3 linked regions of the Homo sapiens genome follow. The protein of the gene in region 2 purifies or fractionates together with the protein of the main gene of each other region. This does not show direct contact. Each region holds a gene or a part of one and is shown on either strand. Other genes may lie near its edges.

The links.
Region 1: the proteins of MIGA2 (region 2) and PACC1 purify together in Homo sapiens (co-immunoprecipitation; one large-scale study listed by IntAct). This does not show direct contact.
Region 3: the proteins of MIGA2 (region 2) and KCMF1 purify together in Homo sapiens (affinity purification with mass spectrometry; one large-scale study listed by BioGRID and IntAct). This does not show direct contact.

Annotation. Positions count from the first base shown.
Region 1 is NC_000001.11:212,379,525-212,383,890, reverse strand, and holds part of PACC1 (proton-activated chloride channel), read left to right. Parts: intron 1-3,853; coding exon 3,854-3,996; intron 3,997-4,366. UniProt on the Homo sapiens protein: Chloride channel gated by pH that facilitates the entry of chloride ions into cells upon exposure to extracellular acidic pH. Involved in acidosis-induced cell death by mediating chloride influx and subsequent cell swelling.
Region 2 is NC_000009.12:129,034,379-129,040,202, reverse strand, and holds the start of MIGA2 (mitoguardin 2), read right to left. Parts: upstream 3,578-5,824; 5' UTR 3,522-3,577; intron 3,270-3,521; exon of another isoform or gene 3,236-3,269; coding exon of another isoform or gene 3,187-3,235; intron 1-3,186. UniProt on the Homo sapiens protein: Regulator of mitochondrial fusion: acts by forming homo- and heterodimers at the mitochondrial outer membrane and facilitating the formation of PLD6/MitoPLD dimers. May act by regulating phospholipid metabolism via PLD6/MitoPLD.
Region 3 is NC_000002.12:85,023,157-85,027,522, forward strand, and holds part of KCMF1 (E3 ubiquitin-protein ligase KCMF1), read left to right. Parts: intron 1-4,366. UniProt on the Homo sapiens protein: E3 ubiquitin-protein ligase which accepts ubiquitin from an E2 ubiquitin-conjugating enzyme and then transfers it to targeted substrates, promoting their degradation by the proteasome.

The DNA.
Region 1 (4,366 bases), on a different chromosome or scaffold from region 2:
TTCTCTACAGAAGCGAAGGGAAGATGATTCTTTGTGTAGGCATAGGAAACAGAGCAGACTTCTACAATGGAAAAGGAGAGAGAACTAAAGGAAAGGACTCTTCCCAGAGTAAAACACACTGGAAAACTCAGTGTGCTTCCACAGAGCATACTTAGCTTTCCCATGCAAGGGAGAGGCCTATTAGAGAAACAGAAATTTACTACTTTGGAAGAAACCAAAACCCAGACCTATACTAGTCAACCTAATCCTTCATTCATAAATAAGAATGGAGAATTAATGGTCACCAGACATTTGCATGAAACCAATGACAGAAAAGGACCAAGATGAACAAATAGAATGGACTCTAGAATAGGGAAGTAGAAGCTAATTAAAACAAAAAGGAAAGCAACTTTTAAACAATTCCAATGTGGAGTTATATGTATAATAGAAGCTCTTTGTCTGGATTCCCAGCTCCCTTCATCTCTCTGTAAAACACGCTAATGAAAACTCGTGGCTGCTTCCGTCCCACTAGGTGCCTATTCTCTGGATGCCCTCCTCTCCTCCCCCAGTTGAAGTGTATGCTTAGGAGGAGTCAGTGAGGGTCATTTCCAAACCTGTGTAGGCCAGTTGCACTTGTTACAATAGTTACATAATTCGACTAAAGAGTGTAAAAACCCTTGAAATAAGGGCACAAAGAGAGAGTTGTTTTTATGGAAATGAAGTTGAATGCAGCTACTGCCCCCAAGTCTGAGTGTTGGTTCATCTCCTCCATCAATTTCTTGAAGTCCACAAGCTATAAACTAACAGAGAAGTTATCTCCTCCCTATCCACCAAGTTTCCTACCCAAACCAGCATATAGCAGTGGAGGAAGAATATGATGAGAGCAGTAGAGCTCCCATTTGGAAAAGGAAGAAGGGGAAGGGCCCGCAGCTCTGCTCTGCAGCAGTGGTGGAACCCTGCAGGGTGGGACCGGTGAGACGCCTTCTTGGCATGAAGTAAGCTCCTTGGTTTGAACCTGTTGCTGCCCTCAGAAAGAGACTCCTGTGTGCTCTGGCCTCGTCCCCTGGGAGCTTCTGCCTTGGTGGTAATGCTCTGTGGCCATATCTGAAGTGGACATTAGAAAATACGCCCTCCCTGGTGGCTGCACAGCTTGTGCCACTCACTTCCTGCTTGTGTGAGCAGCTTTAGGGCTAAACAATTGCAAACTTGGAGGGCGGCTTCTTACCTGCCTCCTGCCACTGCCTATGTTTGCAGTGAGATTTCAGAAATGTGTAGGCTTCTGGCTGTTCGCATCTAATCAAGTTCATGTGAAAGTGACCCCAGTCGAGGGTCTCATCCTGTTGTATTTGTAAAATCTTCGGAATTTTGCTGATTTTCTGGTGCTTTCTTTCATGCTCTCAATTTAATGGTAGTTATTTTTTACCAAATGCTCTGCTCTGGCACAATAAGGTTTGCCACCTTTCCAGCCTGCGGGATCCTTATCTATTTCCTTACTGCCCGCCATTTTCCCACTGCCCAAATGTTTGGCTGTTCCCTCATTTTGATTTTTTTTGCAACCATAAAACACTCCAGCCGGGCGTGGTGGCTCATGCCTGTAATCCAGCACTTTGGGAGGCCGAGGCAGGTGGATCACGAGGTCAGGAGATCGAGACCATCCTGGCTAACATGGTGAAACCCCGTCTCTACTAAAAATAAAAATAAAAAAATCAGGCGTGTGTAGTGGCACGTGCCTGTAGTCCCAGCTACTTGGGAGGGCAAGACAGGAGAATCGCCTGAACCCGGGAGGCGGAGCTTGCAGTGAGCCGAGATCACGCCAGTGCACTCCAGCTTGGGCAACAGAGCGAGACACCGTCTCAAAAAAAAAAAACAAGAACACTCCAGTGTCAGCTAACAAATTGTGTATTAGTCAGAGTATAGGCTAAGCTACCAAATAAAAACAAAACCTGCAAATACAATGGCTGAGATGAGGGAGAAGCCTCCTTCTCTCTCTGAGAACAGTCCTGGCATGCAGGCCGTGTGGCGTAGTGGGCAGTACTGCCTCATAGGATAGTCCAGCCATGACTTTTGTCTTGTCACTGTGCTGTCCCCTGGGCATTGTTCTGGTCCATGTGGGCAGTGTGTGTGTGTGTGTGTGTGTGTGTCACTGTGCTGTCCCCTGGGCATTGTTCTGGTCCATGTGGGCTGTGTGTGTGTGTGTGTGTGTGTGTGTGTGTGTGCAGTGTGTGTGTGTGTGTCTGTGCACATGCCCAGGCCTGGGAAGGTGGAGGGCAAGCAGTTCCCTTTTCAGGAAATGGGGTGGAGTTGAATGAGTCCCCTTTTCTTTCGCACATTAGGAACTTTATCACGTGGCTACATTTGAGGGCAGAGATGAGGCTCCAGCAGGGGGAGTGGATTCTGCTGAAATCTGGGTTGGGAAAGCCATTCTAGTACTAAAGGAAGAAATGGATAATAGAAACCAGGGACAGTGCTTTCTGTTGCACACTTAAAACAAAATGGTACAGAAAGGTTGAAAAATAAATAGATGGACAAAGCTGTCTTGAGAAGATGCAACGAAAACCAGAAGTGACAATATTAATAGTGTGGAATTCCACGTGCAAAAGTTTGCAAGAAGGATGTTTAATATTGATAAGAGGTTCAACTCCATACTCTCCACTAAGACGACTGAACAGTTCCAAAACTTTATGTACAAAACAGCATGACATTTATATATTTTAAGCAAAACCCGTTAGAAGTAAAAAATACCATCACTTTAGAGCACGATTTAAACACCCCTCTCAGAAATTCACAGATCAAATAGACAAAAACTAGAAAGGATAAGAATTGAATAGTGCAGTTAATAAATTTAGAGTATGTATGTGTGTGTATACATGTGGGGGCACAAAACTTTGTAACTGACAGTGTACTCACTCTTTTTCAAATCTCTGTAGAGCATTTATTTATAAAAGTTGATGTAAAAGACATTTTTTTCTAAAATTAATCTATAAATTCAGTTTCTATCACAGTTAAAAGTCCCAGTGAATTTTTTTGTGGAACTAAGCAAGCTAGTCTTAAAGCATACTTAGAACACGTTCAAAAATAACCAAGACAAGTTTGGGGATGGGGAAGAGTAGTAGGGAGAGCACCTTCCCAGATCTCAGAACAGTGGAAAAACCACAGGAATCAAAGTGGCACAGTACTGGACAGAGACAGACAAATGTGTGGGCTCTGCTAGGGCCAGAAGCAGACATAGATATTGGTTCTGCATGGAATTTAGTATAGGATAAAGGAGGGAGGGGAAGAGGCTTCAAAACCTGTCTCTATGCATTGTTTGGGAAGTAGGAGTTAGAGCCCTATTTCACACTATATACAGAGCTTAAAGCCAGGTATATAAAGTATCTAAATGTAAAAAAGATTAAAAAGTGCTATAAAGAAATAGAGGAGAATATTGATATAATTTTGGCTTTCCTCAGCAAGCAAAACCCAAAGCCGTAAAGAAAAGGATTTAAGGTTTTACTACGTTAAATTTAAAGTTTCCATAGGACAAATGACATTGGAAACAAAGTTAAAAGAAAAATGACAGACTGGAAGAAAAGATTGGCACACATAACAGATGAAAGTGATCATCCTTGCTAAATTAAGAGCTTCCATAACTCAAAGAACCAATGAGAAAAGTGGACAGAGGATGAGCTGCATTCAGCTCTGGTTGGGCATCATATGGGGAAAACTCCCCAGGAATGAGCATGAGTCCCAGCCCAGTCCTGTTGTTGGCTAGTGGTCCCTTTGGAGACCACTGGGCAAGGAGCTATGGGCTTTCCAGTCAGTACTTCTGCCCTCAGACCCAGAGGCCTCTGTGTACTCTCCCAGGACTGAGACTCTGTCCTTTTTCTCTCTGCAGAAATCTGCCCTGATTGTCCAGGGGCCCCGGGAAGTGAAAAAGCGGGAGCTGGTCTTCCTCCAGTTCCGCCTGAACAAGAGTAGTGAGGACTTCAGCGCCATTGATTACCTCCTCTTCTCTTCTTTCCAGGAGTTCCTGCAAAGGTGGGCTTTTAGAGTTCACAGTGGGCTTACTGTCTACTTTTTATCTTATTCCAGCTGTGTATGTCCCAAGGCTAGAGACGGAGGGGTGAGGGCAGGGAAGGGAAGGGGCATTCTCAGATGACCCACTGGCCCAGGAAGGGACCTCATGAGCTTGGCCGGTCCACTCAACATCTTATCACAAAGTTAAGCAAATCTGGTGTGGAGGAGCATGCTGGCTCTCCATGCACATAGTGCTGGCTGGTTCTAGAGAGATCATTTGGTCTCACCATTGCCTGGGGCTGCTGAGGAGTAGGGGAAGTTGCCTTTGATTTGTAAGTCCCTTTGAGAGCAAGTTCTTGTGTGGTTCCTTGGTTTCCCCCACAGTGTGCAC
Region 2 (5,824 bases):
AACCTGGGAGGTGGACAGGTCACTCTCAGACTTAGGGCTTTAAGCCACATTTTCTCTACCTTTTTCAACCCATGGACCATTTGCTAAGCAAAAATCTTAGACCCCAGACTGAGAATCATTGCATCTTTTTACCTCCCACAAAGTTAAGAATGTTTTCTTGCTGGGCACGGTGGCTCACGCCTGTAATCCCAGCACTTTGGAAGGCCGAGATGGGTGGATCACCTGAGGTCGGGAGTTTGAGACCAGCCTGGCCAATATGGTGAAACCCCATCTCTACTAAAAAACACAAAAATCAGCTGGGTGTGGTGGCACGCACCTGTAATCCCAGCTACTCAAGAGGCTGAAGCAGGAGAACCGGCTTGAACCTGGGAGGTGGAGGTGGCAGTGAGCCAAGATGGGGCCACTGCGCTCCAGCCTGGGCAAGAAGAGCAAAACTCAGTCTCAAACAAACAAACAAACAAACAAACAAACAAAAAACTAGCTGGGCGTGGTGGTGCACACCTGTAACCCCAGCTACTCAGGAGGCTGAGGCAGAAGAATCGCTTGAACCCGGGAAGCAGAGGTTGCAGTGAGCTGAGATCACAACACTGCACTCCAGCCTGGGCTACAGAGCAAAACTCTGTCTCAAAAAATAATAATAATAATAATAAAATAAAGAAGCTGGGCACAGTGGCTTACGCCTATAATCCCAGCACTTTGGGAGGCCGAGGAGGGAGGATCACAAGGTCAGGAGATCAAGATCATCCTGGCTAACACAGTGAAACCCCATCTCTACTAAAAATACAAAAAATTAGCCGGGCGTTGTAGCGGGCACCTGTAATCACAGCTACGCGGAAGGCTGAGGCAGGAGAATGGCATGAACCCAGGAGGCGGAGCTTGCAGGGAGCCAAGATCGCGCCACTGCACTCCAGCCTGGGCAATAGAGTGAGACTCCATCTCAAAAAATAAATAAATAAAAAACAAAAAAATAAAATAAAATAAAACACACACACACACACACACACACACACACACACACACACACACAAACAAAGAGCTACTCCACGCTACGTATTTTGTGCTGCATTCTTTACATCCATCATCTCACTGAATCATTAGAATTTTGTGAGGTTGGCTGGGGTGGCTCATGCCTGTAATCCCAGCACTTTGGAAGGCTGAGGCGGGCGGATCACCTGAAGTCAGGACTTCCAGACTGGCCTGGTCAACATGGTGAAACCCCGTCTCTACTAAAAATACAAAAATTAGCCAGTGTGGTGGCACGTGCCTGTAATCCCAGCTACTTGGGAGGCTGAGGCAGGAGAATCGCCTGAATCCAGGAGGCAGAGGTTGCAGTGAGCCTAGATCGCGCCACTGCACTTCAGTCTGGGTGACAGAGCGAGACTCTGCCACAAAAAAAAAAAAAAAAAAAAAAAAGACAAACAAAAAAAAAGGATTATGTGAAGTTGATGCCACCCACCTTCCCCCCAGCCTCACCTCTGGTTTCCAATGAGGAAACTGAATCTCAGACAAGCTAAGTCAGGAGTCCAAAGTCACACAGCTGGTACTTGGTAGAGTCAGACTTTGTGCTCAGTACAATGCTTTTGCTAAATTTGACATGCAGCAGGAAGTAGCAAGCCCCAGCAGACCACAGAGTACTGGGCAGCTTTCCCCTGGACCTTGGGAGATACTCCCCTCCCTGCCAGGGTACCCCATTGCCCCTTCCCAAGGCCAGGAAATAAGTGGCTTGATCACACCTAGCCTGGACCCCAAGACCCGGCAGGGTCCTCCCCCACTTCCAGCTCCAAGCCCAAGGATGCCTTCAAGGTCTCCCGGGACCTCAAGCGGAAGGAACACACAAGCCAGGACAGACCCTGTCTCCCTGGGATGGCCGCCAAAGTCACTGGGCCAGCAGAAGAAACAGCTTCTCCCCAGTGAGTGGGAAGGACTGAGGAGCCTGTCAGTCTCGCTCTAGGGCTGGTGGGGGTGTGTGAGAGGGCAGGGCAGGCTAAGGAAGCTTCCAGGTTGTCAGGGGTAGAGACATCTGCCCAGGAGGCTGTGAATTGAGCTACGTGAGCTGCAGTGGTCAGGACCTAGGTTAATACTGTAAGCCACGTCCCCCTACCCTTCACCCCAACCCCAGGCTGGCTCAGGTCTCAGAAAGAGGGAAGACAAGAACATCAGAGGGCCAGCAGCTACTATTTCCCAAGCTCTTATTCCAGGCCAGATCCAGAACAGGCTCTCCACGACAGGCTTTGGGTCCAGTCCTCTCAGAACCCTCGCAATGGCCAATGTTTATCTCAAGGATGGGGAAACGCGGAGGCTCTGAGATGAGGCAGCCTGCCTGAGGTCACCGAGTACTAAGCGGCCAAGCTCTGGGGGATCTCAAGGCTGTGGCAGGGTTTCCCAGCTTCTGCCTGCTACAACTGCCACTGCTCCTTCCAGGCCACAACTGTAGGACTTCTGGGCCCCCAAGTGAGAAGCCCACATGGTGTTAAAGATGAGCCTGAACAAATAAACGCTACAGGGGTGACTGAGGCCCACTGTTTGCGGGAGAGTCCAGAGCAGCCCCTGCTGTCCCCACTGGGAGGCAGAGCCTGCAGGTGCGAGGTAACATCACCAGCCCCCAAGCCTGCTTCACTCCAGGGATGGATCCAAATCCAGTCAACCCACACTGTGTCCGTCCCCCTGGCACCCTGTCCGTCCTCCAGGGCCTAAGCTGAGACCCCTCCACCTCCTCTCCACAATGAAAAGCCCACGGCAAGGTCCCCTACCAAATGGACACTTCTACTGCTGTGTAGGGCCTGGCCCCACTTGGGCAGCCATCTCTTGTGCCCTACAATCTTAGGCGGACACCTCCTCATTCCACCGTCACCACAGCACTTACAGCACCCTCAGCCTGGGTGCCTAAGCATATCATCCTACGCGCCTCCTCCCCTGCGCTAGACCACCCCACTAATGACTCTGGCCTGTGCACTCACTCATTCCGTCTGGACCCCAACAACGTCCCCGACTCCCTTGAGCCACTCTGCCCAGTCTCCTATTCACCCCATGCCGGACCCCTCAATAGTCCCACCATGCCGGGCACCGGGCATCCCCGCGTTGGACCTCAGCAATATCCCCGTCTTCAGAAATTGCTCACTCCACCCCAGGCATCTTGGGCAGCCCCTTCTTCTCTTGCCCCCACCCCGGAATATCATTGAAACTCACCCAGGTACCCTCTGGCGCCGCTCACGGCCCGCACGCCTGCTCCTTCCATCCCGGGTGCTCTCCCCGCCTCGGATCGGGTACCTGCGCGCCTGCTCCAATCCCCGCCACGTTCCAGGCCCGGGCATCACCTCCCTGACCCAAGTACCTTCTCGTTCCGCTCCCAAGCAAGGCACCCTCTCGCACCGTCCCCGGCCCGGGTACCCACTCATTCCAACCCCGACACCTTCCTGGTCCTGTTGGGCCCGGACACCTGCGCCTACTCGGTCCTCCGCTCAAGTCCCGGCCCTGCCGCGCTGCCCGCCCGCCTTGGGGGCTCGGCCGGGGCCGATACTCACCCGGGATGCCATCGCTGCGGAAGGGCAGCGTCTCCTTCCCCGGCGGCTGCGCAACCAAACCGGCCGCCCGGGGGCGTGGCCTAGCGCCAAGCCCCCACCCTCTTCTGGCCAATGAGCATCGCTGAGTCTCTCAGGGCCGCCGCAGCCTCTGGCCAATTAGGCGGGTCATGTGACCAAGCTTATATTCCGCCTCTCCCGCCCTCTTCCCCTCCTCCTAGTGCGGTTGAAGCGCGAAAGTGGTCTCTTCTCTTCTACTATTGGTCATTCAGATTAGATCGACATGGGCGGCTGGGTGGGGCGGGGCCATTCTTAAAGGGGCTGAAGCGGAGCAGTCAGACCTCCAAGGGGCTTTCTTGGAGTACGCCAAAGCAGGCTGAGCCCTCGTATTAGGATCCTCTATTCTTGTTCCACACAAGGACAAATCCTTCCCACTCTCCAAGCGCCCATTTTCAAATACTACCGCCCCTGACTTCCCGCAGCATGCTCTTATACTGTCGCCACTCTCCCCCTTGTTCTGGAGTTGTTTGCAAAAGTGCCAGGTCTCGCCGCTAGACAGTGTCTCTCTGAGAGCTGGAGTCAAGGGGTCTTCAGTTCTGGCCACCTATCTGGGTCTTACACTAAATACCAGGATTGAGATCAGGCCGACCTGAGATAGAATCAAGTGTTGCCACTTCAGCTCTCTAGAGCTTACCCCTCTATGAAATAGGGATGAGGCCGGGCGCGGTGGCTCACGCCTGTAATCCTAGCAGTTTGGGAGGCCGAGGTGGGTGGATCACGAGGTCAGGAGTTCGAGACCAGCCTGGCCAACCTGGTGAAACCCTGTCTCCACTAAAGATTAAAAAAAAAAATTAGCCAAGCTTGGTAGCACACACCTGTAATCCCAGCTACTCAGGAGGCTGAGGCAGGAGAATCTCTTGAACCCGGGAGGCAGAGGTTGCAGTGAGCTGAGATCCACCCATTGCACTCCAACCTGGGCCAAAGGGCGAGACTCCGTCTCAAAAAGAAAAAAAGAAATAGGGATAAAATCTTCCCTTTCCCAAATCATAGGGCTTTGGTGAGGATGGAAAGAGGACGGTGTATCAGCCCTTCCATAACTGCGAAGAGCTGGGCACAACTACGTTTTAAAATTGTAATCGTCGGCCGGTAGCAGTGGCTCATGCCTCTATTCCCAGCACTTTGGGAGGCTGAGGTGAGTGGATCACATGAGGTCAGGAGTTCGAGACCAGCCTGGCCAAAATGGTGAAAACCGGTCTCTACTAAAAATAAAAAAGCTAGCTGGGCGTGGTGGCACACACCTATAATCCCAGCTACTTGGGAGGCTGAGGCAGGAGAATTGCTTGAGCCGGGAGGAGGAGATTGCAGTTAACCAAGATCACGCCACTGCACTCCAGCCTGGGCAACAGAGCCAGACTCCATCTCAAAAAAAAAAAAAAAAAAAAAGCCCGGGAGCAGTGGCTCACGCCTGTAATCCCAGCACTTTGAGAGGCCAAGGCAGGTGGATCATGAGGTCAGGAGATCGAGACAATCCTGCCCAACATGGTGAAACCCCATCTTTACTAAAAATATAAAAATTAGCCCAGCATTGTGGCGTGTGCCTGTAGTCCCAGCTATTCAGGAGGCTGAGGCAGCAGAATCGCTTGAAACTGGGAGGTGGAGGTTGCAGTGAGCCGAGATTGCGCCACTGCACTCCAACCTGGGTGACAGAGCAAGACTCCATTTCAAAAAAAAAAAAAAAGGAAAATTACAATTGTCGGTAAAGCCACATTCCTTCATTCATTCAACTAATTAAGTGTGCCAATCCTTTGGCTGGACATGGGAGCTCAGTGGTGGACAAGAGACAGGTATGTGGTGGCACCAGGGAGCTCATTGTCTGGGGAGCAGATACTTAATCACAATCCCCTGTGATGGTTACTCTAATGGGGGAATGTGGGATACCAAGGAGATACCTGGGCTTGCCTGGGGAGGTGAAGGGCTCCAGAAAGAAAAGGGGTCCAAGGCCGGATGTGGTGGCTCACGCCTGTAATCCCAGCACTTTGAGAGGCCGAGGCGGGCAGATCACCAGGTCAGGAGTTCGAGACCAGCCAGACCAACATGATGAAATTAGCCAGGGGTGGTGGCATGCGCCTGTAATCCCAGCTACTCAGGAGGCTGAGGCAGGAGAATCATCTCTTGAACCCGGGAGGCGGAGGTTGCAGTGAGCCGAGATGGCGCCACTGCATTCCGAGACTCCGTGGGGAGGGGAGGGAAGGGGAAGGCAAGGGAGGGGACGGGAGGGGAGGGTGGTCCAAACAGCGGATGCCCAG
Region 3 (4,366 bases), on a different chromosome or scaffold from region 2:
GATTACAGGCGTGAGCCACCGCGCCCGGCCAATACTGTATGTATTCTTTGAAATTTCCTTTCACTCATCTGAGGCAGATGTTCTTACCGTTGCTGTGATTCATTCTTTTTCCAATTCATTCTGTGCATATTGAACTGTTGAGCCTTTGAATCTGAATAGCCTTTTTTTTTTTTTTTTTGAGACGGAGTCTCGCACTTTCTCGCCCAGGCTGGAGTGCAGTGGCGCGATCTCAGCTCACTGCAAGCTCCGCCTCCTGGGTTCACGCCATTCTCCTGCCTCAGCTTCCTGAGTAGCTGGGACTACAGGCGCCCGCCACCACGCCTGGCTAATTTTTTTTTGTATTTTTAGTAGAGACGGGGTTTCACCGTGTTAGCCAGGATGGTGTCGATCTACTGACCTTGTGATCCGCCCGCCTCGGTCTCCCAAAGTGCTGGGATTACAGGCGTGAGCCACCGCGCCCAGCCCCTGAGTAGCCTTTTTAAAATTCAGTTACAAAAACTGCCGTCAACATTCTTCCACATTCTCTAGGTGCACACAGACAAAAGATTCCCTCCCCGGGAATTTATTTAAGAGTGAAATTACGGTATCATAGGAGGTATATGTGTTTAACTTGACTAAAAATATGAACAAATTTTTCAAAGTGGTTGTGCTGATTTACACTCCTACCAGCAGGGTATAAGCACTTCTGCTGCCCTTTATCTTCACTAACACTTGATATCATGAAACTTGTAGTTTCTTACCGGTTTGGTAAATGTAAAATGCTAGCTCACGGATGTTAATCATGCACTTCTTTGATGACTAATGAGATTGAGCATCTTTTCATATGTTTACTGGCCATTTATGTTTGTTGTTCTTTGAGTGCCCTTTGACAGGTTTCTCCATTTTTCTACTAAGCATTCATCATTTACTTACTGATATGTAAGAGTTCATAATGCATTCTGAATACCAAACTTTTGTCTGTCATGTATGTTGTACATATCGCCAGTTTCTGAACCTTATATTTTCAATCAATGTAGGCTGTGAAAAGACGAAGAAAAAGGCCGAGCGTGGTGGCTCACGCCTGTTGTAATTCCAGCACTTTGGGAGGCCCAGGCGGGCAGATCACCCGGAGTTCGAGACCAGCCTGGCCAACGTGGTGAAACCCCGTCTCTACTAAAAATACAAAAATTAGCTGGGCATGGTGCCAGGCGCCTATGATCCCAACTCCTTGGGAGGCTGAGGCAGGAGAATTGCTTGAACCCAGGAGGCGGAGGTTGCAGTGAGCCAAGATCTCACCATTGCACTCCAGCCCCGGCGACAGAGTGAGACTCTATCTCAAAAGAATAAAACAAAAACAAAAGATGAAGAAAAAGTCTTAACGTAGTTGGACTTATCTCTTACTTTTTGATTTGGAGAGTGAGAGAGAGAGAGAGAGAGAGAGAGAGAGAGTGTGTGTGTGTGTGTGTGTGTGCGCGTGTGTGTGTGAGAAAGAGAAAGATTTAAGAAATTGTTTTCTACTTTAGACTCATAAAAATATTCTATATTGTCTTCTAGAGATATTTTTCATTGTTCTTTTGAATCCGTCTTTAAACCATGTGGAATTGATTTTTTGTGTGTATAGGATATGGGGAGAGATCCAATTCTGTTTTCCCCACATGCAGATAATCACCTGTTCAGCACCATTTATTGTCCATTCCCTTTTTTTCTCAGTGCTCTTTAGTGACCTTGCTGTTGTAAAACAGATTTCAACATCTGTTTCTGGTCTTTCCGTTCTATTCCATGGGCCAGTTTGTCTCTACCCTGGTGCCATTCCATCTTACTGTAGTTATTATAGGTTTATTATTTGTTATGGTGTTACTTATTATTTATTAGTTTAGCTCTTGATATATAAAACAAGTCCCTCTATCTCATTTTTCTTGGGAGCATCTTGACTCTCCTTGGCCCTTTTTGTAACTTGCATCAACATTTGAGTCAGCTTACCATGCCCCACAAAAAAATTCTTTTTAAATTTTGGTTATTAATTGTATTGAATCCACAAATCTGTTGACATTTTATTATGAACCTTCCAGTCCATGAAGTTGGTATTTATATTTTTTAAAGTCCTTTAGTGTCTTTGAATACATTTTTACTAATTTGCTTCATAAAGGGCTGCCTATCTTTGGTTAGATTTATTCATAGGCACTTTTTTAAAATGCTGTTGCAAATGGCTTATTTTTTTATTGCAGTAAAATATACATAGCATAAAATTTATTTTAACCCCTTTTAGGTGTACAGTTCAGTAGCATTAAGTATATTCACATTCTTGGAACCATCACCACTGTCCATCTCCAGAATTCTTCCATTATCCCAAACTTGAAAACTCTCTACCCACTAAACCGTAACTCCCCGTTCTCCCTTTCCTCAAGCTTCTGGCAACCACTGTTCTACTTTCCTTCTCTTTGAATTTGGCACATCTCGATGGAATCACAAATGACATTTTTTTGGTTTTTTGAGATAGGAGTCCCGCTCTGTCACCCAGGCTGGAGTGCAGTGGCGCAACCTCAGCTTACTGCAACCTCTGCCTCCTGGGTTCAAGTGATTCTCTTCCCTCAGCCACCCGAGTAGCTGAGATTACAGGCACACACCACCATGCCTCACTAATTTTTTTGTAATAAATGACATATTTTTAATAATATGTTTTTCTGTCTGTTTTGCAGTGAAGAAATACAATCAGTACTTTATTTAGGAGGTCTCTATCTAACAGCTTTGCTTACTGCTTCTAATAACTTAGCTGTATTTGGGTTTTCAGCATAAACAAGCAGATCACATGTGAATAAAACTATGAAACCCACCTACAGAATTTTAAATTTTAACTTTTTTAAAAATATTTTTTAAAGACAGAGTCTCACTCTGTCGCCTAGGCTGGAGTGCAGTGGCATGATCTCGGCTCACTGCAACCTCCGTCTCCTGAGTTCAAGCCATTCTTCTGCTTCAGCCTCCCAAGTAGCTGAGATTACAGGCGCCCACCACCACGCCCGGCTAATTTTTGTATGTTTAGTAGAGATGGGGTTTCACCAGGTTGGTCAGGGTGGTCTTGAACTCCTGACCTCAGGTGATCCGCCCACCTCAGTCTCCCAAAGTGCTGAGATTACAGGCGTGAGCCACTGCGCCTGGCATATTTTAACTTTTTTTTTTTTAAACAAATACAAATGAGATCTCTCTATGTTGCCTTGGCTGGTCTTGAACTCCTGGCCTCAAGCAGCCCTCTTGTCTTAGCCTCCCAAAGTGTTGGAATTACAGGTGTGAGCTATGGCACCCAGCCCTGTTCAAGCTTCTTTCTTTCCTTTATTATTATTATTATTATTATTATTATTATTATTATTTTTATTTTTTCCAGACAGGGTCTTGTTCTGTTCCCAAGCTGGAGTGCAGTAGTTTGATCATGGTCACTGCAGCTTCGAGCTCCTGGGCTCAAGCATTCCTCCCACCTCAACCTTCCAAGTAGCTAAGGCTACAGGCACAGGCCACAATGCCCAGCTAATTTTTAAATTTTTTTGTAGACAGGATCTCTCTATGTTGCCCAGGCTGGTCTTGAACTCCTGGCCTCAAGCCATCCCCCTGCCTCGCCTTGCCAAAGTGCTTGGGATTATAGGTGTTAGCCACCACACCCAGTTATTTCTTTTAACAGGTCAAGAATTATTTGATGCCCCAATTCTGATATGAACTCATGACTGATTCTGCTGCTCCTGCTAGTTCTTTCTGATGGTGCTTTGTTTTTTTGTGTGTATTTTATGGTTTAAATTATGAACTTATTCTTTGGATGTTTATATATGCCAGATGCTTGGTATCAATTCTAATTTAAGACCACTTAAAATTCTTGACCCAAGGTCTTTGGAACCATTTGATAGAATTTGGGCTATAAACCCATGAGGACTGGTTTGTGGTTATGGCTTTTTGTGTTATTTTGTGCCCCTAGGGCAGGGGGCTTTCACTGGGGTAATTTTTGTAATCCCCTAGGGAGGATTTCTAGCCTACCCATGCATTGAGAGTATATTAGGGTCTTGGTTTTATGAGGAATCTTCTGTTAATTATCCCACCTTCACTAGGCCTTTGTCCAATAATGCTGTGGACCTTAAGCTTAGATTTTTACCTGCTTGGGCAAATACCCTCATGGTGAAAAGCCTTCTTTAGTGCTTCCAGTCACCAGTTCCTCTTCGTCTTGGTTTTTACCTTCTTGCTGGCTTATCAAGGCTTTTTTTTTTTTTTTTTTTTTTTTTTTTGAGACAAAGCCTCACTCTGTTGTGAGGCTGGAGTGCAGTGGCGCGATCTCAGCTCACTGCAACCCTACCTCCTGGGTTTAAGCAATTCTCATGCCTCAGCCTCCCAAGTAGTTGGGATTACAGGTGCC